7 linked regions of the Homo sapiens genome follow. The protein of the gene in region 7 purifies or fractionates together with the protein of the main gene of each other region. This does not show direct contact. Each region holds a gene or a part of one and is shown on either strand. Other genes may lie near its edges.

The links.
Region 1: the proteins of FTSJ1 (region 7) and RRM1 purify together in Homo sapiens (co-immunoprecipitation; one large-scale study listed by IntAct). This does not show direct contact.
Region 2: the proteins of FTSJ1 (region 7) and TMEM33 purify together in Homo sapiens (co-immunoprecipitation; one large-scale study listed by IntAct). This does not show direct contact.
Region 3: the proteins of FTSJ1 (region 7) and IBTK purify together in Homo sapiens (affinity purification with mass spectrometry, with the first as the bait; one large-scale study listed by BioGRID). This does not show direct contact.
Region 4: the proteins of FTSJ1 (region 7) and RAP1A purify together in Homo sapiens (co-immunoprecipitation; one large-scale study listed by IntAct). This does not show direct contact.
Region 5: the proteins of FTSJ1 (region 7) and GOT2 purify together in Homo sapiens (co-immunoprecipitation; one large-scale study listed by IntAct). This does not show direct contact.
Region 6: the proteins of FTSJ1 (region 7) and RIDA purify together in Homo sapiens (co-immunoprecipitation; one large-scale study listed by IntAct). This does not show direct contact.

What each region holds. Positions count from the first base shown.
Region 1 is NC_000011.10:4,135,523-4,139,432, reverse strand, and holds the end of RRM1 (ribonucleoside-diphosphate reductase large subunit), read right to left. Parts: intron 1,239-3,910; coding exon 1,050-1,238; 3' UTR 501-1,049; downstream 1-500. UniProt on the Homo sapiens protein: Provides the precursors necessary for DNA synthesis. Catalyzes the biosynthesis of deoxyribonucleotides from the corresponding ribonucleotides.
Region 2 is NC_000004.12:41,951,836-41,955,928, reverse strand, and holds part of TMEM33 (transmembrane protein 33), read right to left. Parts: intron 1,860-4,093; coding exon 1,730-1,859; 3' UTR 1-1,729. UniProt on the Homo sapiens protein: Acts as a regulator of the tubular endoplasmic reticulum (ER) network by modulating intracellular calcium homeostasis. Mechanistically, stimulates PKD2 calcium-dependent activity. Suppresses the RTN3/4-induced formation of the ER tubules.
Region 3 is NC_000006.12:82,171,895-82,175,116, forward strand, and holds part of IBTK (inhibitor of Bruton tyrosine kinase), read right to left. Parts: intron 1,545-3,222; coding exon 1,473-1,544; intron 619-1,472; coding exon 486-618; intron 1-485. UniProt on the Homo sapiens protein: Acts as an inhibitor of BTK tyrosine kinase activity, thereby playing a role in B-cell development. Down-regulates BTK kinase activity, leading to interference with BTK-mediated calcium mobilization and NF-kappa-B-driven transcription.
Region 4 is NC_000001.11:111,696,289-111,699,788, reverse strand, and holds part of RAP1A (ras-related protein Rap-1A precursor), read right to left. Parts: intron 2,349-3,500; coding exon 2,292-2,348; intron 1-2,291. UniProt on the Homo sapiens protein: Counteracts the mitogenic function of Ras, at least partly because it can interact with Ras GAPs and RAF in a competitive manner. Together with ITGB1BP1, regulates KRIT1 localization to microtubules and membranes.
Region 5 is NC_000016.10:58,706,421-58,710,699, forward strand, and holds the end of GOT2 (aspartate aminotransferase, mitochondrial isoform 1 precursor), read right to left. Parts: intron 3,148-4,279; coding exon 2,997-3,147; intron 1,874-2,996; coding exon 1,751-1,873; 3' UTR 711-1,750; downstream 1-710. UniProt on the Homo sapiens protein: Catalyzes the irreversible transamination of the L-tryptophan metabolite L-kynurenine to form kynurenic acid (KA). As a member of the malate-aspartate shuttle, it has a key role in the intracellular NAD(H) redox balance.
Region 6 is NC_000008.11:98,106,944-98,111,036, forward strand, and holds part of RIDA (2-iminobutanoate/2-iminopropanoate deaminase), read right to left. Parts: intron 1,809-4,093; coding exon 1,703-1,808; intron 1-1,702. UniProt on the Homo sapiens protein: Catalyzes the hydrolytic deamination of enamine/imine intermediates that form during the course of normal metabolism. May facilitate the release of ammonia from these potentially toxic reactive metabolites, reducing their impact on cellular components.
Region 7 is NC_000023.11:48,474,315-48,478,998, reverse strand, and holds the start of FTSJ1 (tRNA (cytidine(32)/guanosine(34)-2'-O)-methyltransferase), read right to left. Parts: upstream 2,801-4,684; 5' UTR 2,603-2,800; intron 2,437-2,602; exon of another isoform or gene 2,331-2,436; intron 1,039-2,330; 5' UTR 952-1,038; coding exon 831-951; intron 551-830; coding exon 481-550; intron 383-480; coding exon 292-382; intron 1-291. UniProt on the Homo sapiens protein: Methylates the 2'-O-ribose of nucleotides at positions 32 and 34 of the tRNA anticodon loop of substrate tRNAs. Requisite for faithful cytoplasmic translation.

The sequences.
Region 1 (3,910 bases), on a different chromosome or scaffold from region 7:
AACCCAGGAGGTAGACGTTGTGGTGAGCCAAGCCAAGATCGTACAGCCTGGGTGACAGAGCAAGACTCTGTCTCAAAAAAAAAAAAAAAAAAGTGTGGTATACATAAAGAATGAAATTTGGATACATGCTATAACATGGATAAACTGTGAAAACATTATGCTAAATGAAATAAGCCAGACATGTATTCCATTTATACGAGGTACCTAGAAGAGGCATATTCATAGAGACAGAAAGTAGAATAGAGGTTACCAGGGACTTGGAGGGGAAAGGGGGAGTTAATGTTCTTATTGATACAGAGTTTCTGTTTGGGATGATGAAGTTCTGGAAACAAATAGTGGTGATGGTAGTATAACACTATGAATGTGCTTAAGCCACTGAATTTTATGTTTAAACATGGGTAAAATGGTAAATTGTATATTAGGTATATTTTACTACAGAAAGGAAAAGAAAAGAAAAAGGCATATAATTTCCTCCCTGAATTCTCAAAGAACAGAAAATGTGTTTTTCAAATTTGACTTTTATATGAAAGTAAATGACAAAATTAATCTCATACAATCACTTAGAAATGTTTATCTTTATTTCAGAATAACCTATAGGACCATATCCAGATAAAGGTCCTATCAGTACTTCTCATGAGTTATCACTCAGTTTTGCTTCTAGAGACCCACCAGTCAAAGCAGTAAAACTAAATCTCCTTAACAAAACTGAAGTCTTCAGAAAAGCAGTGCTAAAGGGGTGATGAAACCTTACTTAACCACTCCCTGTATGCAAGATGACTTATTTTGCATTCCTAAAACTTCTACTTTGATTCTCAATATATCCGTTTTTTTTTTCTTTTTTTCAAAAGCATTATTTTGGTGAAAATCCCAATATATGAGTTTAAAAAAAAAATCATTATCATCATTAACAGTACTTTAAATCAATTACTCCTTTTGCCTGCAACAGGGTCCAGCAAAGCCTTACCACCTCAAGCAAACCCACTATACCTATCTATGCTCAAGAAGTAGTTTGGCTACTGAAGACATGCTGGTCTCTTCCAAGTCTTTCCTCAGGATCCACACATCAGACATTCATCTCTATTCTCCAAAGAGCACACCATGGCTGCTGTGTTCCTCTCCTTCTCTTCTTCCTCTTTTGATACCTTTTCTTTATCTTTTAGCTTCTCCTTATTTAGAGTGAACTGGATTGGATTAGCCGCTGGTCTTGTCCTTAAATAATACATCCCAGTCTTCAAACCCTACAAGGAAAGTAAAGACAATTATTAGGAGAAACTCTGTGAGAATACTAGACATTCCACACCAATATTTAAAATACATTCCTGTCCAGCCGCCCCGTCCAGGAGGGAGGTGGGGGGGTCAGCCCCCGCCCGGCCAGCCACCCCGTCCGGGAGGTGAGGGGCGCCTCTGCCCGGCCGCCCCTACTGGGAAGTGAGGAGGTCCTCTGCCCGGCCAGCCGCCCCATCTGGGAAGGAGGTGGGGGGGTCAGCCCCCCGCCCGGCCAGCTGCCCCATCCGGGAGGGAGGTGGGGGTGTGAGCCCCCCGCCCGGCCAGCCGCCCCGTCCGGGAGGGAGGTTGGGGAGTCAGCCCCCAGCCCGGCCAGCCGCCCCGTCCGGGAGGGAGGTTGGGGAGTCAGCCCCCAGCCCGGCCAGCCGCCCCGTCCGGGAGGTGAGGGGCGCCTCTGCCCGGCCGCCCCTACTGGGAAGTGAGGAGCCCCTCTGCCCGGCCAGCCGCCCCGTCCGGGAGGGAGGTGGGGGGGTCAGCCCCCCGCCCGGCCAGCCGCCCCGTCCGGGAGGGAGGTGGGGGGAGTCAGCCCCCAGCCCGGCCAGCCGCCCCGTCCGGGAGGTGAGGGGCCCCTCTGCCCGGCCGCCCCTACTGGGAAGTGAGGAGCCCCTCTGCCCGGCCAGCCGCCCCGTCCGGGAGGGAGGTGGGGGGTTCAGCCCCCGGCCCGGCCAGCCGCCCCGTCCGGGAGGGAGGTGGGGGTGTGAGCCCCCCGCCCGGCCAGCCGCCCCGTCCGGGAGGGAGGTGGGGGGTCAGCCCCCCGCCTGGCCAGCCGCCCCGTCTGGGAGGTGAGGGGCGCCTCTGCCCCGCCGCCCCGTCTGGGATGTGAGGAGCACCTCTGCCTGGCCACCACCCCGTCTGGGAGGTGTGCCCAACAGCTCATTGAGAACGGGCCAAGATGACAATGGCGGCTTTGTGGAATAGAAGGGCGGGAAAGGTGGGGAAAAGATTGAGAAATCGGATGGTTGCCGTGTCTGTGTAGAAAGAAGTAGACACGGGAGACTTTTCATTTTGTTCTGTACTAAGAAAAATTCTTCTGCCTTGTGAGCCTGTTGATCAGTGACCTTACCCCCAACCCTGTGCTCTCTGAAACATGTGCTGTGTCCACTCAGGGTTAAATGGATTAAGGGCGGTGCAAGATGTGCTTTGTTAAACAGATGCTTGAAGGCAGCATGCTCGTTAAGAGTCATCACCACTCCCTAATCTCAAGTACCCAGGGACACAAACACTGCGGAAGGCCGCAGGGTCCTCTGCCTAGGAAAACCAGAGACCTTTGTTCACTTGTTTATCTGCTGACCCTCCCTCTACTATTGTCCTATGACCCTGCCAAATCCCCCTCTGTGAGAAACACCCAAGAATGATCAATAAAAATAAATAAATAAATAAATAAAAAGAAAAAACAAACAAACAAACAAACAAAAAAATACATTCCTGGCTGGGCGCTGTGGCTCATGCCTGTAATCCCCCAAGAGGGGTAGTACATGCCTATAAATTTCAGCTACTCAGGAGGCTGAGGTTGCAGTGAGCCAAGACTGTATCATTGCACTCCAGCCTGGGCAACAGAGCGAGACTCCGTCTAAAAAAGTATAAAATAAAATAAAACAATAATATTAAAATAAAATAAAATACATTCCTGGCCAGGCACAGTGGCTCACACCTGTAATTCGAGCACTTTGGGAGGCCGAGGCAGGTGAATTGCTTGAGGCCAGGAGTTTGAGACCAGCCTGGCCAACATGGCAAAACCCCATCTCTAATAAAAATACAAAAATTAGCCAGGTGTGTTGGCACACACCTGTGATCCTAGCTACTCAGGAGGCTAAGACATGAGAATCACTTGAACCCAGGACAGAGGTTGCAGTGAGCCAAGATCATGCCGCTGTACTCCAGCCGGGGCAACAGAGTGAGTCTCTGTCTCAAAATACATACATACATACATAAAATAAAATACATTCCCATGAACCAGATCAAACTTTTTTTAAACTTGGAATTCTATCTCCTCTAGGAGTACTCTCAAAAATGCTTTGTGAGTCAGACAGAAATATCCTGTTCTTTTCACTCCTAAAACAGGCTTATCTCTTTGGAAAGGTCAAACATTTTTATTCTTTTGTCTTTGTTTTTATGCATATGACTTCCAGGTTTGCCCAAGACAATATGTCTGCCTTAGGTTATAACTGTTTAGAGAGCTAGACTGTGTCTCTGTGTAACAACAGACTATAAGACTTCAAAGATAAAGATCATCATCTTCTATTCAGTATCCTCAGTCCTGGCACATACTAGATGTTCAATAAATGTTAAATTAAAAAACAAATTTATAATTCTACTTAAATACCCAATACATTATCAGGGAATAAGAACATAATCCAAAATCACCAGACTTTACAGCTGGCAACGACTAGCTAAGTAAGCTGGCTTTCACTTTATAAAGTGAGAAAACAATGGATGTTTTTGAATAGCGGGTTGACGTGTGCAAAGTTTTATCTGAGGAATGGTGGTAATGCACACAAAATGGCTGGGAGCAGAGATCCTAGAAGCAATAAGGTCAGTTTAGAATAACAGCAGCAGAAAAGGAAGGAAGATATTTAAGAAATAATACAAAGGAACAATCAACACAACTTGGTAATTGTACGGACAG
Region 2 (4,093 bases), on a different chromosome or scaffold from region 7:
CTTTTTAAATTATAGGAAAAAACTAACAGCTTCAAAATAAACATGACTTCAGCTGCCAAAATTTCTTGATATAATTCAAGACTTCATTTTTTAAAACATAATTAGAAATCAACATTATGTTTACTTAACATTATAGTCATTTTATTGCTCTAGAAAGTTTAGTTTCTAAAACCATTGGATTACTTACATAGTGACAATAAGACTAGCCACATACACAAAATCAACTGTATGAGGCTGCTTCTCCAGCTTAGTGGACAAATATTACAAAAATACAAAAATAGCTGATTATAGTTAAGCTATCAAGTATAATTTTTCATGTATTTATCCTAAGAATATCCCCTTTTTATAGATAAGGAGATGAACAAAAATAAAACTAATGTTACTGATAAATTACTAATGAATGTATTTGAGAAATCCAAATTACATGCAGACAGAAACTGGTCACAAAAACCATTACATTTCTCTATACTAAAACTGTACAATGTTTTAAACATTTCCAATCATGCAACGGTAATGAAGATCAGCATGAATTTTATAAGAGTTGATGGGAGTTCAATGAACAGGATTTAACACATTTTACAACCCAAATCAAAGTTGAATAATACATCCAATTCCCCTAAATTTATCTATGCGTTGAGACTGAAATGCACATTATTCCCCCACAACTCCTCCCCCTACCCCATTCCCAATCAATTACCTTACCTATAAAACCTTCCATTTAACCTTTTAAGTCAGATTTGATGGGTAAACATGTAATCTACAGTATACTCTCCATTATTATTTCAGGATAGACACACATATAGTCAGATGCTGAATCTTCATTACATTCCTTTCAAAAGGCATCTAAACTGTTGCAATTGTCTATGAAAATTCAAGCCTAAGAAACCAAGAAAACTGGCAGTCAAGATTCTGAACTAGGTAGTTCTACAAACTATAATACGAATAATCTATATGTCCACATTAGTAAAAGAAGGATTTCCTGTTTGAGAAATGTTTCTCAATGGCTCTTTGAAGGGAAAGCTGTGTCACTACTGCTTTCTGCTTTCAATGGCTAGGTGACCCCAAATATTTATCCAACTGGCTAAGAGGCTTACAGTTGAGCCTTTTAAAAAATACTCAAGGCCACAGAAGTACTTACGGAAATAAAATTTTAGAAGATCATAGTTTAAGATACATAGAATTCTTCTTATAATGGTACATTCAAAACACATCTGTCCTAACAAAGCAGCATAAAACCAATTAAAAAAACAATTTGAAATTAAATACACTGAGAAGTGTTAAAATCATTAACCAAAATTACTGAATGGTAGAATACTGTCTCAAAATGTACTGAATTCACATATGTGTATCACCATAATGAATTCATGCCAGATATAAACTCAGGTTACCAATTAGGTTGAAACAAATTTTAGAGCTATTTTTTTTACATGAGAAATTAATGTACTTCATGATATAGGCACAACAGCATCTTTTTAAAAAAACTGGTATATTTATCACTAGATACAGACTTCTTTAACCATTAGCAACACAGCGCAGTAAAATTTTCTCAAAACTTTTTAAGCTTGATTTAACATGCCAAGAAAATGATTATTTTTCCACCGAGATGCATTTATGTAAATTATGTAAATTGGATTGAGGTCAGTGTAACACCTGGAATTTACAACCCCTAGCAGAAGTACCAGCTGCTAATAATGCTTATACTATATTTGTAGCTTAACTAGATGTTAAACTATGGAACTGTTGGTGCCAATCTGCTTATAAAGGCAATGCTCTGGAGACAAAGTCTTCTCACAAACAGTGGGCAAGCAGGTTTCATTATTATGTGTTCAACAACAATCCTCAGTTCATTAAATAAGGTCCTGCAAGACAAAATAGTTTTCTTTGAGAAACACAAGGAAAAAGCAATACACAGGCTTACCTCATTTTATTGTACTCCATAGATATTTCATTTTTTACAAATTGAAGGTTTGTTGCAACACCGCATACAGCAAGACTATCAGTGCCACTTTCCAACAGCATGTGCTCACTTCATGTCTCTGCGTCACACTTTGCCAATTCTTCCACTATTTCAAATGTTTTCATTATTAATCTATTATGGTGATCTGTGATCTGTTCTGTTACGGTGATCTCTTTGGTGTTACTATTGTAACTGTTTTGGGGCACCACAAACTGCACAAATATAAGATGAAGCAGTTCATGAAGGCCATTCCTGATTGGTCTCTTTCCCTCTCCTCAGACCTACCTATTCTTTGAGACACAATACTGAAATTAGGCCAATTAATAACCCTGTAATGGCCTCTAAGTGCTCAGGTGAAAGGAGGCCTCCCATGTCTGTTACTTTAGATGAAAACTAGAAATGATTAAGCTTAGTGAAAAAAGCATGGCTAAAGCTAAGACAGGCCAAAAGCTAGACCTCTTGTGCCAAATAGCCAAGCTGTGAATGCAAAGGAAAAGTTCCTGAAGAAAATTAAAAGCCCATTTCTGTGAACGGATGAATGATAAGAAAGCAGAACAGCCTTACTGCTGATGGTAATGCTATTGCGCACTTAGCAGACTACAGTAGAGTGTAAACATAACTTCTGTATGCACTGGAAAACCAAAAAATTCATCTGACAGCTTTGTGATATTCACTTTATTGTGGTAGTCTGGAACCACTCCCACAACATTTCTGAAGTATGCCTCTAATGCTAAACAAATACTCATGAAGGAATCTACCATAGCCATTAGAATTTGAAGTAAAAGAATAACTAGAATGCATTGTAGAGAAAACACAAAATACAATGAAATTCTCAAACAACACCTACATCTTTTATGGGTGGAAACACTCATTTAACAAAGGTATTTAATAAATGGCTATCTCTAAAACCTCAGATTAAATTTTAAAAATTATATATATATATTTTAGAGTCACATCATTTTCACATTTAACTTAGGCAATTTCAACTAGTTTTTTAAAACAGAACAAGAAAAAATATACTACATGGACAGTGTTTTTTATATATTTTAAAATATATAACATGGACAGTTATATTTATTCACCCACTATTTCCTTAAATGTACATATTGTCCCTCAGAGATTTCCTCTTCTGTAAAATAATTCTGAGTTGTGGTGAAATTTAAATGCAATATGGAAGATGCTCAATAAATGTTACTTCCCAGTTGGATCAATACACTGAACTATGACTCTTTTATGCCTTCCGACTAAAGCCCAAGTACTCGGTGTCACACCCAATACCCTCCACAATCTAGTCTCAATCTAATTTTCTGCCCCATCTCCTGCCACTCCCTGCCCTCGCTCCTATCATCAACTTATGTTGCATGTTTGTGCCCAAAACCATGTGGGCTTTGCCTATGTCTTAACTGTGCTCACTGCCTACAAAGTATTATTACATACTGTAGATATCACATATATTATACAGGCTAGTATACACAAAATCATGTATACTGTACTGACATTTATAAGTGATATGAAGGATCATCAAGGGTAATTTTAACCATTCACAATTTTCACCTTATGTGCTGACTCATCCTGTATAAAGATGCAACTACTATTCTACCTTTTTGTGTCCTGTTTTACTTCTATGGTTAGAAAAAAAGCAACAAATCTACTTTTCTAAACAAGTATTTAATATGCTTGCACAGAAAGACAGGAATAATAATATTTGGAGTAATGCATAATTTTCCAAAACCTGCCCTTCCTGTATCTCCTGTCTTCGTGAGAGCACCATTACAACTCTTAGGCTTCCAAGCCAGAAACCTGTGGGTCTTTAATTTACTCTTTTCTCTCAAGCCCTAATATCCTATCTCCTAATACCTTTCATATTTGTCCCCTTTTCCTTTTACCACTGGATTAATTCAGGCTCTAGACTACTCTAATAGTCTCCAAATTGATATTTTTCTTCTCTTGCTGAGCTTGCAATCCATTTTCTGGAATATTTCTAAATCAGATTTCATCATGGGGGTTCCCAGCCTCTCTATGTTACAATCTTCAAAGGCTCTCCTTACCTCAAAATAAAATCCAAACCCTTTCATGATCTAGTCCTTTCTACCATCTACCTTTGTGGACACAGATATTTATCAATTCTCTATATAC
Region 3 (3,222 bases), on a different chromosome or scaffold from region 7:
TTGCTTCTGAGCTTTCCAGTGCTACTATGCGTCTTTTCTGTTTCCAAGCCTGGCTGTCTGGTCTTTCAGCTAAGTCTATGGAATCTTAATATCCCTCAAATAAATTATCTTTTCCTTAAGTTAGCCAGAGTGGGCTTCTGTTGCTTACAATCTTAGAATTCTTACTGATACAGAAGCCAAGTGCAGCACTAGAGAATACTGCCAAATTCTCTACTGGTCATTTTAAAAAAACTAAAATAATCCAAAGTATCACCAAAGCAAAAATATAAGCTTTATCATAATTTATTAGTCATAAATTAATTGCCCTGAATATCTACAACTAATACATACACTGCTAGATGCCTCAGTTTAATTTTACCTGGCATTTACATTTTAATTTCATAGATACAAGCACCTGTCCAAAACAAACAAACACGATTTTCTTAAAACCTAAGTAGGAAATGTAGTTCTTCTCTAAATTAAACCCTACTAAGTATGTTATTTACCTGAATCAGAGCCAACGGTTTTTCTCGACTTCTAATAAGAGCTGCTTCTTGTTGTAGTTCTTCTTCTACAATAGATGCAAAAGTGACTGGGGCTACCATGGATGGAGCAGTCACTGAAGAAGATAGCCAGGGACTGAAAGAATAATAATAATGAGTTTCATTCATCTTCCTAAATTTTTGCATGCAAAATTTTCTCTGAAATACTTTTTAGCAATGCTACAATTCTTTCCAGTGACCTACAATGAACGAACCTGGAAGCTTTCACAGAGATTACAGAATGATGAGTTTCACTCATCTTCCTAAATTTTTGCATGCAAAATTTTCTCTGAAATACTCTTTAGCAATGCTACAATTTTTTCCAGTGACCTACGATGAGCGAACCTGGAAGCTTTCGCAGAGATTACAGAATGATGAGGTGAGAAACAGAAAAACAGAAGAACTAATGTTTTATTTGGACCAGTATTAGAGAGAAAATTTTGGAAAGTACCAGGAAATGGGGAGGGAGCAGAAACAACATAACTGAACAGAAAGGTAACTCAAACTACAGTACGGAGAGGATACAAGTAATACATTCTACTCAATACCATACTATTCCCAATTTCTTAACATTCTCTTATTCTCTTTTTTTTTTTTTTTTTTTGAGACAGAGTCTCACTGTGTCGCCCCGGCTGGAGTACAGTGGCATGATCGCGGCTCAATGCAATCTCTGCCTCCCAGGTTCAAACGATTCTCCTGTCCTAGCTTCATGAGTAGCTGGCATCACAGGCATGCGCCACCATGCCCAGCTAAGTTTTGTATTTTTAGTAAAGACAGGGTTTTGCCATGTTGGCTAGGCTGGTCTTGAACTCCTGACCTCAGATGATCCACCCGCCTCAGTCTCCCAGAGTGCTGGGATTATAGGCATGAGCCACTGCACTCAGCCTTAATGTTTTCAATGCTAAGCAGCAACTTAGCTTTGGAGGCCCATAACTTATCAATTAACCTTACTTGGGACTGTCTAGAAGTGGTAAATCTGAAATATGGTTGCCTTCTGGTCCTGGGGTACCATGGGTAGAGCATCTGCAAAACAAATGCCAAAATTAAAGATTAAAGCTTCTAGTAATATTAGTCAAACTGCTTATTAATAGATACAGAGGAAGAATTGTAAACTCCTGACTCCAGAGGCAAATTAAATGAGTGCAGTCAAGCTTACCTTTAAAATTATAAGTAAACAAAATAATCTATATTTATAAAACCTTCTGTATAAAATATCATAGAGAAAGATACTGCAAGAAATAGCCTATTTCTAATAATAAATATATATATACACACACCAGATAAACCAATAATCTCTAAATCAGATAATTAACAGCCGAATTTTGTAAGGAACTAATATACTTTATGAGCAAAGGATTACAGATAGGACAGAAATATAAAATATGATCTTTACCTTCTAAGAATTCACAAGCTAGTTGAGGAAACAACATACAAAATGACATATAAAATAACAGAACAGAATTTAAGACAGTATAACAAATTGAGTCACACTGGCTATAACAACTATAAAAATCACAATATTTAATCATTTGAGAGGGCCTCATGGATGGAATGAACTTGAGAAGATAATAAAAAAGAGGTATATGATGAAAGCAGTAAGAAGCATTCCAGTAAGGAGAAAAACTTAAAAAGGTACAATACAGATGGACCTAATTATGGAATTTTACAGCTAGAAAGGTCCCTAGAGATTATCTAGATTGCTCCAATGCTCTCTTTCAGCAATGAGAAAACTGAGGACTAGACAGGTTTAACAACACAAAGTCAAACAGAGAGTAAATTAACAGGACCTAAAATATTGACTTCGTGATTCATTTATACACATTTATTGAGCATGTCAGGATTACTGTAGGTGCTAAAAATCAGGCTGATTAAAACCCAATCTTCTCCCCTCAAAAAATTCTGATGGGGAAGATTTAAAAATATACTTAAGCAATGATAAAACAATGTATAAAGTACTATGGATGCACAGAAGAAAAAATACAATATGGAAGATTGTATATACTGATGGCTTCACTGAGGAAATGACATTAAAGCTGAGGAGACGTACAATTAGAAAGAATTTTGGTTGTACAAATACATGGACCTAAAAAAGATTTCAGTTATTTAAGTAAAGGCAGGCTGTTCTCTTCAATAAGCAAAGAATGCCTGAATTCAGGGTAAGGAAGAAACTTAAAGAGAAATAAAGTTTAAAAGAAACAATAGAGCCAGAGTACAAAATGCACTGAAAGCTAAAATGTTTAGCCCTAATGTGTGGGCAAACAAATTTACTAAAAGCCTAAGTACTTCATGTGTATTATCCCATTTAATCTTTGCAATACCCTGTGAAGAAAGCATATATTAACTATTATAGAGATTAAAAAACAAACTCAAAGAATATTATATAATTTGTCTGATTAACAAGTTAGATAAGTAGCAGAGAGATAACAAAAATCTGGTCTTTTTGATTTAGAGTACAGTGTTTTTTCCATGATCACACAGCTACCTTTATTTTTACTATTCCCCTTATTCTGGAATATATTCCACTTCAAATGTCTTCTCACTCTTTTACAGTTGGCTCAAATGTCACCTTCTCTCTCCTCCTACAAAACTTCAATCATTATGATAAAGCATCACACACTGTTATTATTGTTTACATGTCAATCTTAACTGCTAGACTAGTCTCTTGGGGAACAGGACTGTGTTTCATTCATCTTTGTATCTC
Region 4 (3,500 bases), on a different chromosome or scaffold from region 7:
GGCACTAAAGGAAATGAGATGGCCTGGGTGCAGTGGCTCACACCTGTTATCCCAGCACTTTGGGAGGCCAAAGACAGGAGGATCCCTTGAGTCCAGTTCAAGACCAGCTTGGACAATATAGTGAGACCCTGTCTCTACAAAAAATTAAAAAAAAAAAAAAGCTAGGTGTGGTGGTATGCACCTGCAGTAGCACCAGCTCCTCAGGAGGTTATGGTGGGAGGATTTCTTGACCCTGGGAGGTTGAAGCTGCAGTGATCTGTGTTCACACCACTGCACTCCAGCCTGGGTGACAGAGAGAGACCCTGTTTCAAAAAAAAAAAAAAAAGAGGAAGTGAGATGGATAAAGAAAAAAGTAGTGAGTAATGGAGGATAAGATGCTTGGAAATTAGATTAGAGAGGTATTATACTTATTGGTAATCACATAGCCTAGAGTAAAACCATGGTATGAATGCCTTAAAGGTAGGATGGACATCAAGGAAATGACAGGCCAAGCCAGGGTAGTAAATCATTTATAATATCCATATAGATTCTATATGGATAGTAAAATCACTAAGAATTCTGATTGAATCAGTGTATGTGAAAGAGAGAAAGCAAAAATCTTCAAAGTGTAAGGAGTGATTTTGAGACAAGATTATGCAGCTGTTTGTAAGGTTTTATGCAAGGTACTGGGGACACAAACAAGCAAATAGGCCTTATAACACAGCGTGTTGAGTGCTAGATGGGAGACAGACACGATATTGGATAGCACAAAGTAAAGATCTCTGTGATAGAGAACTTCCTTCTTACAATCTGGACAGAGAAAGAAGAATGCCCGTACACTGTGGATGTGATTTAAAAAAAAAAAAAGCAGAAAGTATTCATTTTAGCTATTAGGGTCTCTGGAAACAAAGGGGAATTCTGCTGATTCAGAAGCTAAAAACATTAGAGAGCAGGAGGGTGGGAGAGGGAGAGATAGCTTGATTCAGCTGATAGAAAATGTAGTTTCAGAAGGTCTTTACCAGAAGCTTGTTGTGAGGGCAAAGGTCCCTGATAAGAGTTAAGCCATTTTCCCAAAAAAGAATGGAAAAATACAGTATAATTAGTACTATATTGTTGTATAAAATCACTCCAATTTGCTTACATGCTTTTTTGAACTATCTGAAATGTTTCCATCATTTATAAAAATTATAGTGGAAAACTTTGTGCTGAATTTTAAACAACTTATCACATTTAAAAATGCCAGCCAGGTGCCATGGCTCACACCTATAATCCCAGCACTTTCAGAAGCAGAGCCAGGAAGAACACTTGAGGTCAGGAGTTCGAGATTAGCCTGGGCAACACAGCGAAACCACCTCTACAAAAAAAATTTTTTTATTAGCTGGGGGTGGTGGTACGTGCCTTTAATTCTAGCTACCCAGGAGGCTGAGGCAGGAAGACTGTTTGAGCCCAGGAGACTGCGGTGAACTATGATTGCACCACTACACCCTAGCCTAGGTGACAGAGCAAGACCTCGTCTCTTAAGCAAAACAAAAAACGAACCCATCCATTTTAAAGCTAAGAATTGCCTAATGTGTCAAGTCTATGTGCATGGAGAAAAATAAACAAAGAAAAGCAAAGATTGCTTAATGTATGTATTTTATGTGGCAGTATAACTGGAAACCATCAGTTATTAATAAAAATTATAAAGGTGATGGTATTAATGAAGAAGAATAAAAGCAAATACACAATTCCATACTGTGTAACAGACATTATGCCTAATGATTTATAATTATTAACTCATTTGCTTATCACAAACACCTTATGATGTACTAACATCATTATACTCATTTAAAGATTAGAAAAAGGAGGCTCAAAATAATTCTAAATCTTCTGAGGAAGATTTTTGCCTTCCTCAGAAAACATGTATCTGTCACCAGCCCCTTGAGATGTCAAAATGCTAGTGAAAAGAAAAAATTATAAAAATTAATGACTATGGTGCCAAGAGACAAGGTCTTATTTAAACCCATAGAAATACAAATATTAACTAAAGCTCTAAATTTAAAATAAATTTTAAAAAATCACTGACAGCATAATCCTTACCTCAATGTAGGAAGAAACCCAACACACAGATTATTACAGGTGAACTTTGTGATATGTGAGCATGAACTACATCAGAGTTGATTTCATATACTTAAGAATCCCTATGTTCAGAGAATTTCTTCTTAATCAGAATGATTACTTTTACTCAGAATTATCTGGATGACAAAACCTACTCAGATGACAAAACCTGCTCACAAATTAAAATCTATCAAAAAAAGAGAAAACATCCTTACTGTCCCTGCAGTATCCAGGATTTCGAGCATACACTGTTGGCAATCGACTTCAACTTGCTGTGGGGGCAAAAAAAAAAAAAAGGTTAAAGAGTAACATCAAAATCTCATTCTGTTTTCTTCCCACCTCTTCCATCAAAGTAACTATTAACAAATACAAAGCCTGTCTCCAGCAGTATGCTGTAATGGCTGGGGGTAAACTTGGTACCACAATAAAGAACAGCGGTCTCAAGTACAGTCTATTCATATTACAGAAGCCAAGATGGTTAATGCTGAGTTTAGATATTTTCTGACCTCTGTAACGATTCTTATTTGTTATTAGAAAAGGCAAAAGTCATATTTTGAAATTTAAGGAAAACTTCAACGAACAAGTATAGTTCTAACAGAAAAAAAAGTACATATGTGTATTTATATTATCTCCAAAGAAAACAAAGTACAAAAATATTAAATGGCTCAAAATGCGCACAACATTTTGGGGTAAAGAAAATCTTGCCAACTTACCATGTTCAAGTTGTTAAAATTTTACTAAAATATGCAGAAAATTAAATACACAGTAAAATCTGAGTTTAAGACATAAAAGAAACACAGGAGTACTAAAATAAACAGCAATGAGCTAAAACAGTGCCTCAAGAAAAAGGCACTTTTCTAGAAAAGCTCTATGTGAAAGGTGAAATTTTATACACTGAGTTCTATTTACCCATTGGTCTTATAAAAGAAAAGAAGGTTGGTCTAATGAAAGTATCAACTATCAACTGTGTGGAAAACTGTTTTAATAAAGAAGGGATTAAGAAAAGTTAGTCCCTTAGAATTTTAGGTACAGATCTTGCTTTGCAGTTAAAGCTTTAACTAGCAACTTACTTTGGGGAAATTTCAGTAGAGCAACACTGTCTTCTAAAAATAAATGTGCTAACCTAAAGACTATTTTAAACTCTGCTTCTGTGTCAGATCAGACATTGATGAGGGGCACCACTGGTCAGACCACAAACTCATCCACCCCACCACTTATGGGACAAGTGTGATAATCTGCAAAATTTGTAACTGGGAATGTTCAGTGAATAATCAATTAGGACTATAGTTTCTTGATGTATCTAGAGCATAATTCTGTTTCCAATTTGAAGACAATGAAACTGCTCTACTAGTAGTCCTTCATGAACTAACAAATTAATTCAACAAAAGTTACAGCACTATTAAAGGTAAATTCTAAAAATGTCT
Region 5 (4,279 bases), on a different chromosome or scaffold from region 7:
CAGGCATGCGCCACCATGCCCAGCTAATTTTATATTTTTAGTAGAGACAGGGTTTCTCCATGTTGGTCAGGCTGGTCTCAAACTCCTGACCTCAGGTGATCTGCCCACCTCAGCCTCCCAGAGTGCTGGGATTACAGGCGTGAGCCACCATGCCTGGCCCAAATAATTTTTTAAAAATTGAACCAGTTGCCAACTTTTAAGCACCAACAGATCAACCATAGAAATCAAGATTTCCATTTTTCTTGAAAAATGTAAGACCTACCACCTTGGGCGTTCATCCTCACAGCTCCTGTCACTTCACTACTGCTCCTCAATGCTGAGGATGAGGGTTGATCACCACTGATCAACTTAAATCCAGTTCACAACACTTTTTTATTTACGTTACCTTCTTGGCTCCTATAGACCACTGAAGTTGTCACTTCTCCTCCACCCCTTCTACCCTTTGCCTATATCCACAGGATCCTTCATGGGACTCCACTTGTTCCCCACAAGGTCCAAGGGATTACACCCACATTCTCAGCATCTTCGGACTGGACAAACTGAATGGCAACATGAAGAAAACGACGAATCTTCAGCCAATATTTGGAATAGTGGATACATCTACTGGCTTATGATCAGCTACACGATTCCAAACTCCTACCCCTTTATTTATTTACCCACTCCTACCCCTTCCTCCCATTAAAGAAAAAAGATAACTTAGTAGACAGTAGTTGGGTCTACAGTAATTTTATTGTAACAGAGAAACCAGGCCGCAATAAGTCTACATGGTTAGAGCAGATGGTGGTTCTTTCCAGTGGGTGAAGCCTGAACCCAGCTAGCAGCACGCAAAGCCTAGAATATCCTCTTTCCTGGTACCACCCTGCGCCGCTGGACTCACAGTGTGAGATGAGAGGCTGCACACCACATTCAACAAAGGGAGGAGGTCCAACCGGGCAGAGACAACATCCCAACTGGAGAAACTTGCACTATCATTCAAGAGGATGCCGAGATAAAGTACAGTTTCCTACTCTCCACTATTCTTTGCTGAAAAGGGTGAGGGTACAGCATCAGCAGAAAATTATGTTCTTCATTCTTAAATAAATCTCGATAGGATGGAGTTGATGGTCAATCAAGCAGTAGAATGGGATGAAAATCTGCAATAGTTAAAAAATCTTTGCGTGTAAGGAAAAGAACGGCAATGACAAGGGAGAAAAGAGAGCCTTCTCTTTTTCTTAAATAAGACAGGAAACTGCATTATTTCCCTTGCTGGAGTGGCAGCAGCCTCATTGGTTTTCATAAAACATCATTTCTGCAGTGCGGCCTGTTGATAAGGTTGTTCCAAGATGGGAGGACAGACACGAGGCCGACTACTCATGACAGAACTAGGCCTTCTCTCAAAGCCTCTAACGTGTGCTGTTTCTCACGAGGAACCTGACACTTCAGTTAAAGCTTCTGAAATATTGCAATGGCATAATTGACAGGTTTTTTGGTGCGATGACTTTCTTGCACATGTAAACTCTTTGAGAAAAGTTGGAGAAAAAAGGACCGGGGAGAGTTTGGTTTAATATTCCAGACGCCAGCCATGGATGCCTCTGCCCTGTGTCACTACATGTTCTTTTCTGAGAAACATTCAAATGCTGAGTGTTACACACTGTGGCTGAAAGAAATGATCCACTCACCACCATCCACCCTCTCTCATTGTCTGTGTGAAGCTCTCAATAGCAGAGGCTGAAGACAGAAAGGTTGTCTCTGTTTCCTCGCACCAGGGACATTACTTGGTGACCTGGTGAATGGCATGGGCAAGGTAGCCCACGTTGCTGGAGGTGACCCCTGCCACAGAGATGCGGCCATCTTTTGTCATGTAGATGGAGAACTCCTTGATCAGCCGCTCCACCTGCAGAGAGGAAAGAACTTGGGTACCTCTTCCCGGTACAGGGGATTCTCCCCGGCCTGACATGGCACAGTAGCCAACTTACCAACGCTCTATTTCCTCGCTTAAAACCTGTTCCCAGAATTTGCTGTTAGCTTGGAATAAAATAAGAATAAAAAGCTACTTTAAGGCTGGGGCGGTGGCTCACACTTGTAATCCCAGCTATTCAGGAGGCTAAGGCAGGAGAATAGCTGGAACCTGGAACCTGGAACCTGGGAGGCAGAGGCTGCAGTGAGCCGAGATTGCGCCAATGCACTCCAGCCTGGGCGACACAGTGAGACTCCATCTCAAAAAAAGAAAAAAAAAAAAGCTACTTTAAAGTAGGATGATGAATTCTGATGCATAAACAGATGGGGAAAAAGACACCTTTAGATTCAGCAGAGCCAGGATTCAATTATGAAACAGCTATTTCTCCTGTTGCTCTCTTGGGAGAAGCAACAGTGATTATGAACATGATCAAAACAAGCTCTGCTCTTTAGAAGTTTGTGAGTTCATGGGGGATACAGAGAGGTAAACAACTAAAAAAAAAAAGCAAAATAAATGCTAAAAAGTATTACAATACTTTTACCTAAAAGGGCTCCAAAATAACTGTTTTAACTGTTTTTAGGGTAATTTTGAACAGGTGGGTGATCTATGAAGAATCCTTCTGGGGCTGGGCTCAGTGGCTCACACCTGTAATCCCAGTAGTTTGGGAGACCAAGGCAGGCGGATCGCTTGAGTCCAGGAGTTCAAGACAAGCCCGGGCAACATGGCGAAACTATGTCTCCACAAAAAATACAAAAATTAGCCAGGTGTGGTGGCACTCACTTCTAGTCCCAGCTGCTCGGGAGGCTGAGGCAGGAGGATCACTTAAGCCCTGGGAGGTGGAGGTTGCAGTGAGCTGAGATTGCACCACTGCACTCCAGCCTGGGTTTCAGAGCGAGACTGTCTCAAAACAAAAACAAAAACAAAAACAAAACAAAACAAAACAAAACAAAACAAAAAACCCGAAAACATTAAATAAAAAAGAAAAAAGAAAAAAAAGTAATCCTTCGGGTTTGCAAAGACTGATCAGCTGGTCTGCTGCAGAGAAATCAGAATCACTCACCTGTTCAGGCTTTAGCCCTGTGAAACAGAACATGCCAATTTGGTCGGTGATGTGTTGCCAATTGTGGGTGGAACCCTCCTTCTTGAGGTTGGAGACCAGTTGAGTCCGCATGCCAATGATGCGGTCAGCCATGACTTTCACTTCTTGCAGCCTGTAAAGAAACCCTGAGATGCAGCTCATTCTGCCTAAGCACTGACCGATATGCTGGAGTTCACTGCATTTTTACCTCCCTTGAGCAGTCCCCTAGTGTGCCTCAATTCTCAGGTCACGAATGAGTGACACGCTGTCACTGGCCAGGGAAGAAAGCTATTTTATAGCATTCTGTTTTATATTGGAACACTATTTCCATAAGGCAACTGAAGCAGTTAACACACTTGAGTAGAGACAGTCCTTGACTTACAACTTTTCAACTTCATGATGGCACAAATGCAATATACATTCAATAGAAACCGTACTTTAAGTACCCATACAGCCATTTTGTTTCTTTCAGTACAGTATTGAATAAATTACATGAGACATTCAGCACTCTGTTATAAAATGGCTTTGTGTTAGATGATTTTGCTTAACTGTAGTTTAATACCTGTTCTGAGCATGTTTAAAGTATGCTAGGGTAAGCTATGATGTTTGGTAGGTTAAGTGTATTAAATGAATTTTCTTTTAATGTAGAGATGGGGTTTTGCCATGTTGCGCGGTTTGGTTACAAACTCCAAGGTTCAAGCAATCCTCCTGCCTAGGCCTCCCAGAGTGCCGGGATTACAGGTGTGAGCCACCACGCCTGGCCCATTTTCTTTTTCTTTTTCTTTTTTTCAGATACAGTCCATCACCCAGTCTCAGTCTATCACCCAGGCTGGATAGTACAATGGTATGATCATGGCTCACTGCAGCCTCAATCTTCCAGGCTCAAGTGATCCTCCTGCCTCAGCCTCCCAAGTAGCTGGGACCACAAGTGCATTCCACCATGCCTTGCTAATTTTCTTTTCTTTTTTTTTTTTTTTTGTAGAGACAGGGTCTCCCCATTTTGCCCAGGCTGGTCTGGAACTCCTGGGCTCAAGTGATTCTCCCACCTTGGCCTCCCAAAATGCTAGGATTACAGACATAAGCCTGGCCTTAAATGCATTTCTGACTTATGACAGGCTTATTGGGATGTAACCCCATCATAATTGCATCTGTATTAAGAAAAGTGGGCGGGGCACGGTGGCTCACGCCTGTAATCCCAGCACTTTGGGAGGCCCAGGCGGGCGGATCACGAGGTCAGGAGATCGAGACCATCCTGGCTAACACGG
Region 6 (4,093 bases), on a different chromosome or scaffold from region 7:
TGTAAAGATATCTCTCACCCCTCTCTCCCTCTCCCAAGTTTCCCTCCTCAGAGGTAACCACTGTTCCTAATTTATTGTATATCCTTCTAGGTACAGTCAATGCTTATGTTACATATTTTTAAACACACAAGCACACATGGTAGCATACTGTGCATGTTGTTCTGCATCTTGGTTTTATTACCATGGAACAATTTACCTCGGAGATCTTTCCACATTACTTTAGTTGTATTGATCTAGCATAATTTATTCAACCAGTTCTTTATGAGTGGATATTTAGGTTTTTAAAAATCTTTCAGCTAGGCCGGGTGTGGAGGCTCATGCCTGTAATCTCAGCACTTTGGGAGGCTGAGGTGGGTGGATCATGAGGTCAGGAGATCGAGACCATCCTGGCTAGCACGGTAAAACCCCGTCTCTACTAAAAATACAAAAAATAAGCCAGGTGTGGTGGCGTGTGCCTGTAGTCCCAGTTACTTGGGAGGCTGAGGCAAGAGAATTGCTTGAACCTGGAAGACAGAGGTTGCAGTGAGCTGAGATCACGACACTGCACTCCAGCCTGGGCGACAGAGCAAGGCTGTCTCAAGAAACAAAACAAAACAAAACAAACTTTCAGCATTATATGACTCAGTAAATGCAGTAAATTATAGTTTATTGTTTTATTTTATTTTATTTTTTGAGACAGTGTCTTGCTCTGTGTCCCAGGCAGGAGTGCAGTGGCACGATCTTGGCTTCCTGCAACTTCCACCTCCCAGGTTTAAGCGATTCTTCTGCATCAGCCTCCTGAGTAACTGGGACTACAGGCATGTGCCACCTGACTGGGTTACTTTTTTTTTCTATTTTTTTTTTGAGACAGGGTTCTTGCTCTGTTGCCCAGGCTAGAGTGGAGTGGCACAATCTCAGCTCACTGCAACCTCCGCCTTCCGGGTTCAAACGATTCTCATGCCTTAGCCTCCCGAGTAGCTGGGACTACAGGCACATGCCACCACACCTGGCTAATTTTTGTATTTTCAGTAGAGACGGGGTTTCACCATGTTGGCCAGGCTGGTCTTGAACTCCTGACCTCAGGTGATCTGCCCGCCTCGGCCTCCCAAAGTGCTGGGATTACAGGTGTGAGCCATTGTGCCTGGCCTCCCCCAACTAATTTTTGTATTTTTAGTAGAGATGGGGTTTCACCATGTTGTCTAGGCTAGTCTTGAACTCCTGACCTCAAGTGATCTGCCAGCCTCGGCCTCCCAAAGTGCTAGGATTACAGGTGTGAGCCACATCGTGCCTGGCCTAAATTATGGTTTAATTATATTTATTGGATTAAAATTATATTCCCCATTCTTATTTTTAAAAATGTTGACTTTTTACTTCTGTGGTGGTAATTTTTTTTTTTTTTTGAAGAGGGGCAGGTCAGTGGCCCTGAGAAGAAAATTTCCCAATCCATGTGGAAGTGGCAACATGTCATCTGACGTCAATAATTCAGGTTTAAGGTCACCTTAGTGTTAAGGAGGTGGAATCTCTCTTTTGGTTGTTAGATGATTCATGATCCATCAAATTTCCAACTCTTAGATCAAAAACTATGTTAAATCAAGCAGTAAGTAGTTTAAAAAACATTTATCTGTTAATCTCTATAAAACAAATCAGGCAAGTGGATTCTTAATGCTCTTCAACATTAAAAAGGTAGTAGAAAAGGGAACCTTAAATGTGGAAAATAACTTACTTGTTTAGCTTCTTCTGCTACCCCTCCTGACACAAGCTGTCCACTTGAAGGGTCCATGCCTATCTGTCCTGAAATGTAAATGGTCCTGTCGACTAATACAGCTTGACTGCAATAAACAGAAAGCTAGTGTATTTATGTAAGTATAAAACATAAAATTCAATGCTAGAAGACTTTTTTGATAGGACAGAGAAGTATAAATTGTAAAAAAAAAAAAACAGATACATTGGACTTCATGAAAATTGAAAACTTTTGTTTATCAAAGATATCTTTAAGAAAATGAAAAGGGGCTGGGTGCTGTAATCCTAGTGCTTTGGGAGGGTGAAGCAGGAGGATCGCTTGGGACCAGGAGTTTGAGATCAGCCTGGGCAACCACTCAGTCTCTACAAAAAACAATAAAAAACAGCCAAGTATGGTGACGCACACCCGTAGTCCCAGCTACTCAGGAGGCTAGGGTGATTGAATTGCTTGAGCCCAGGAGTTGAAGGCTGAAGTGAGCCATGAGTATACCACTGCGCTCCAGCCTCAGTGGCACTGAGTAACAGAGAAAGACCCAAAATAAAAAAAGGGGTCGGGGGAAGAAAAGGCAAGTCATAGATTGGGAGAAAAATATTTGCAAAACATATACCTAATAAAGTACCTATATCCAGAATATAAGAAGAACTCTTAAAAGTCAATAATGTGAAGACAAACCCAATAAAATATGAGCAAATGATACTTCACAAAAGAAAATATACAAAGAGTTAGAGTACATGAAATTTGCTCAACATTAGTAGTCATTAGAGAAATGCAAAGCAAAACCACACACTAAGACATCACTGATAAAGTAAGCATTGGCAATGATGGGGAGCAACCCTCATACATTGTCGGTAGTAATGCAAAATGGTACAGCCACTTTAGAAAATAGTTTGGCAGTTTCTTTAAAAATTTAAACATATATTTAACATACAACCCAGCAAACTCTTCTTTTAGAGACAGGATCTTGCTCTGTCACCCAGGCTGAAGTGCAGTGGTAGGATGTTGGCTCACTGAAGCCTTGACCTCCCAGGCCCAAGTGATCCTCCCATCTCAGCCTCCTAAGTAGCTGAGACTAAAGGTGTGCACCACCATGCCTGGCTAATTTTTTATTTTATTATTTACTTATTTTTATTTTTTGTAGAGATGAGGTCTTGCTATGTTGCCTAGGCTGGTCTCAAACTCCTGGACTCAAGTGATCCTCCTGCCTTGGCCTCCCAAAGTGCTGGGATTACAGGCTTGAGCCTCAACTCAGCAATTTCTTTCCTAGGCAACTATCCAAGAGAAATGAAAACATATGTCCAAAGAGTTTACGTGAATGTTCAGAATAGCATTATTTATAGCAAAAAAGCAAGACACACACACATGCACCCACTGATAGATCCAACAAAGGACTATATATTGTCTTATTTCACTTAAATGAAACCTTAGAAAAGAAAATAGCAGCAGCAGATTATTAATTGTTGTCTAGGGCCAGGGGTGATCATAAATGGGTACAAGGGAATTTTTTGGGAGTGATAGAAATATTCTAAAATTTGACTATTATAGTGGATGCATGATTCTATACATTTACTAAAACTCATGGAACACTACACTTAATTAAAATGGGTGACTTGTTTTTTTGAGATGGAGTCTCACTCTGTCACCCAGGCTGGAGTGCAGTGGCACAATCTTGGCTCACTGCAACCTCCGCCTCCCGGGTTCAAACAATTCTGCCTCAGCCTCCCAAGTAGCTGGGATTACAGGTGTGAGCCACCACGCCCAGCTAATTTTTGCATTTTTAGTAGAGATGGGGTTTTGCCATGTTGGCCAGGCTGGTCTTGAACTCCTGACCTCAGGTGATCCGCCTGCCTCCGCTTCCCAAAGTGCTGGGATTACAGTCGTGGGCCACCACACCCAGCCATTAAAATGGGTAACTTTTATAAGTAACTTATACCTCAATATAGCTGTAAAGCAAAAAAATGCAATTTCAAGAGCACTTTTAAAAACATAAGTAGTCATCTTCAGACAAGATTAGTCACTGCTTATTGGAGGATCAATTAAGGATATACTTTTGAGGGTCCACTTCTGATATGGCTTGGCTGTGTCCTTGCCCAAACCTCATCTGGAATTGTAATGCCCATAATCCCCACATGTTGAGAGTAGGACCTGGTGGGAGGTGACTGGACCATGGGGGCAGTTTCCCCCATGCTGTTCTCATGATAGTGAGTTCTCACGTGATCTAACAGTTTTATAAGTGTCTGACAGTTCCTCCTACACATGTACACTCTCTCTTGCTTGCCATCATATACGATGTGCCTCTTCCCCTTCCGCCATTATTGTAAGTTTCTTGAGGCCTCCCCAGCCATGTGGAACAGTGAGTCAATTAAGCCTCTTTAT
Region 7 (4,684 bases):
ACTGCTGCCCTCAGATCCCGCCTGCCCATGGTCCTGGCCCACAGCCCCTGGGTCAGCCAAATTCCCAGGCTTTGCCTCTCTAAGACTGGGCTCCACCTCTGGGGACCCAGCATCATCATTTTCTGCTGTGTCTGTGCAATGATGACCTGCTGACTGTTTCTCCATGGTTACTCTCTCACTCTCTTTCTCTCTCTGTTTCTATCACCTCTCTGTTTCTCTTCCACTCTGCATAGACCCCAGGTAAGGGCCTTCACCCAGGATATACCCCAACACCCTCAGCCATGCTCTTACCTGGGTGATGTCCCCCTGGATCTGTACCACACCTGGTAGTGGAGCCATAGCCTGCAGGTCCACAGCCACCACGTGGCCGGACCCTTGGCCCCTGTGGACAACATGGCCCACATCAGCCTAGTTTCGCTCCCGGGCCCCTCCCACCCAGCCGGCCCTCCTGGGTCTCCCATCTGGGACCCCCACACTTACCCGATCTTCTGGCTCAGCACCTGGCTCCAGCTGCCTGGGGCTGCACACAGGTCAACTGCCCGTGTCACGCCTGGGCATACATAGTGAAAGCATCCTGATCAGCTGCACCCACTTCTCCAACCTGGAGACCCTTGCAAAATTCACCCCTCTCCCCTGGGGAGCACCCACATATCTCCATTGCCCAGGTGCCCAACTCCTCTCCGGTATTCTGCCTATCTTCCTGCCTGTCTCCCTGCCCCAGAGACCCTCTGAGTCAGCCCACCTACCACAGGGAGCTCTGCAGACCCAGCCTACTTGTTTACCTCCTGTGCCCACCTCACCGCCCAGTGACCTGCCCACCAGTCAGGGACCTTGGAAGAGTTGGAATTCCTTATCCAGTTGTAGCAGTTTGAAGGCGCTGCGAGCACGCCAGCCATTCTCCTTGGCCAGGCGGTAGTAGACATCCCGCTTGTCCTTTGACGTCCGTCCCATTTCACACACCAGTTGCTCAAGGACCTGCCGACAGTCCACTGATGCCGGCCAGTATCAGTAACCAGATGAATGGGCTACCACCTACCTCTGTAGGGCGGAGAGAACCACACAAACTAAACTGGGCTCATCTGACCCACATGACAGCTCACACAGAAGATGGGCTGACTGAAGCCCTGGCACTGACCCCACTGACCTTATAGGGCCTGAAGGACCCAATCACTGAACTCTCAGGCTCCACTGCTTATCACACAGACCCTCCTCGCCCCCATCACTTACCCCACAGTTCCCACAAAAGACCCCATAAACCCAACATTCATCCCATAGATGGCCCACTTGTGAACCTGTCCACCTCCCATCACTGTCACCCACACTCCACACATTAAACCCTGCAACTGCCACTATCAACCCTTCTCTGCTCATGTCATGCCCATTAAAATCTCACTGACTGTATCCCCAGTTGTCCCCATTGCCCCTAGATTCATATAGTCCTATTAGCCCCCATTAATCCCTTGTTTTCCACCTTTATCCTAATACTACTTCATTGTACCTCCCACTCCCTATATCTCTCTCGTTTCACCCCATTCGCCATTAATCCCTTAGATGATTAGGCCCCTTTATTACTACATCCTTATGAACCTCTAACAATGCCTGGAGAATCATGGTCTATTAGCTCCCCATTAAGCATTCAATTACTGATTTATCAGCCCCCATTAACTCAGTTTTCTCCAATAGACCCTTCATAGATCACAGCACTAGCCTCCTGCCCTGTAACTCTTTCATTAACAAACACGTTAACTGATCACACATCAGTTCCCCATTCTCCCCTCACTGTCCACCCTGCTCTCCATGGATCCATCACTGGATGATCACACTCCAACAGTTTACTATTCACCTACTATGTATCAACAGAAGTTAACCCCCCCAACCCTAGTTTACTATTGCCCTCTCTTTACTCACTCTGTCCCCTAATTCCTCGACGGTCATGCCACCATAGCCCAACTACTGACTCTGACTACAACACCATCAGCCTCTCATTATCTTTTCTTTCACCAAGGCCCCTTGATCATGACCTCCATCCATCTATTATTCCCCCCACAACCTCACCATCATCCTTGCCATTACGATGCCCCATCACTTTCCATTAACCCGTTGAATATCATACCTCCATCAATACCTGGGGGATCATTTTCCCATCCATCACTCGTTATATTCTAGTTGCTTACTCTGCCATCCCCTCATTAATCAATCAATGAACAACAGTTCGACTAAAATATTCTTATTAGCCCCCATTGATTCCCCAGTAACACCCCACCCTCACGCTCCACCCAACCTCCCAAAACAGCCTTCTGACCACACTCCCCGTCCCTCCTCATCAATACCTCAAAGATGATAGCTCCATCGGGACCACCGGGTACCCCTCCAGGCGGCTCCGACCGCTGCGTCCCATGTCCCCACCTCGAATCCACCCCGTCTACTGGTCCCCTTCTGCAGACAAACCTTGGGTCTAGAACCCACCCGGTGCCAGCCGCCCGAACCATACACAGCTACGGCGCCCAGGGCGGACCTCCCTCCTTTCCCCGCAGGCGGGACAGTGCAGGCGTGCCTCAATAGCCTCCGCCCGCATTCCTGTCCTCCGCGCCCCAGGGCCCACCTTAGTTTTCGGAGCAGGGTGGTCCGCGAGCAGCCTGTGCCTCGGCGAGAGCGCAAACGGGCGACAAGTCCTAGGGCTTCAGTTTGTGTTCGTAGTCCACCCGAATGCCCGGGGGGGCAAGCCTATGGGCTGTCGCAGCGTGGCAAACTCGGCATCGTGGATCGCCCAGGTTCCGGCGGGCCGGGACCTGATGTGAACGTACAACGTGAGCCCCGTCATCTATTGTCGACGTATCCGGGGCTCGCGAACTGCGTTTCCCGGCATGCAACGGGCACGGCCAAAGCGGCTGAATCCACGCACTGCGTGGCTGCAGCGACGCGACGCGCAAGTTGCCAGCGATTCTTTGTTCTTTTTCTTCCGAGGCCAAGATCGATTTGCTCCCCCGCCCCTCCCTTCTTGGACCGTGCTTGTTATTGAGCCTGTAAACTACATTTCCCAAGATGCCACGCGCAAGATGGCGCCCATTCATTTTTCGCGTGCCGGGAAGCGAAATTACCACTCGGGGCATAAACGTGACAGTAAGGAAAATGCGTTCTTGAAGTGCGCGAGCGCGCGGAGGCTGCTCGGCTGCAATTTCAGATCGCACTACAGCTAATGCATGGCGCTGCCTGAGTTTTACTGCCTCAGAACTTCAGTTTCCCTGTCTGGAAAGTGGGGATAATCAATAGTATAGACTTAACAGCATTATTGGGAGGGTTAAATAGGTGTAGCTTAGCCACTCTCTGGGCTTTTGTAATTCTGTGATCTTCAAATATTTTAAATTCCATCCCAGACACAAAAAAAGACTATACATCCTGACCCAGTGGACAAACGGAAAAATAATGAAAACGTTTATCATAGTGTTTACCATGTGCTAGGCTCTAAATGCCCTCAGTGGTGTGCTGGTAAATGGTTAACCACTGGCTGGGGCGGGGGTGGTGGCGGGGAGGGGTGGGGGGAAGGGAGGCTGGTTTCTAGCATTTACCAATTTCCATGGCTTAGGTACAATCTTCTTGTTAGATTTCAAGGTACCGACCTGTGGTCACTGAACAGGGAGTTTAAAAGAGATGCAGTAGTGCACTATCATGTATTATTTTTACCATACAGATAAAATGGGGGTAAATGACCTCAAGAGCATAGAGAATAGTGGAATGTGGTAAAATTAGGAAGTTACCAGTTTTGAGTAAGTTTATATCATTTCATTTTTAACCATAGCTGTTTAACTTTAGGGGGCTGAGGTGGAAGGATCGCTTGAGTCCAGGACTTCAAGACCAGCCTGGGCAATATGGTGAGATCCCCGTCTCTACAAATAATAAAAATAGCCGGGCGTGGTGGTGTGTGCGAGTAGTTCCAGCTACTTGGGAGGCTGAGGTGGGAGGATTGCATGAGCCTGGGAGGTCAAGGCTGCAGTGAGCCTTGATCTTGCCACTGCACTCCACTGTGGGTGACAGAGTGAGACCCTGTCTCAACAAACAAACAAAACCAGTTGTTAAACCAGCTGTTTAACAACCAGTTTGCAAAATTTCTGAAAATTGAACAGCTCCTCCCAACCTGTATAAGTTGGCTCCAGCATGTCCTTCCCTTTGTTCATTCATTTTAATCCTGGCAACATGCATATGAGTATTAGCCAGGGGCGGCGGCATGTGCCTTTAGTCCCAGCTACTCCAGAGGCTGAGGTGGGAGGATCCCTGGAGCCCAGGGGTTTGAATCTAGTCTGGGCAACATAGCGAGAACCCATGTCTCTTTAAAAAATAAAAGGGCTGGATGCAGTGGCTCACGCCTATAATCCCAGAACTTTGGGAGGGCGAGGCGGGGGGATCACTTGAGGTCAGGAGTTGGAGACCAGCCTGGCCAACATAGTGCAACCCCGTCTCTACTAAAAATACAAAAATTAGCTGGGCGTGGTGATGCGCACCTCTAGTCCCAGCTACTCAGGAGGCCAAGGTGGGAGGATCACTTGAACCTGGGAGGTGGAGGTTGCAGTGAGCCGACATCGTGCTACTGCACTCCAGCTTGGGCGACAGAGTGAGACCCTGTCTCAAGAAAAAAAAAAAAAACAGAATGATTGATTCCTTAGCACACGAGCTTCACCAGGCAGGGATT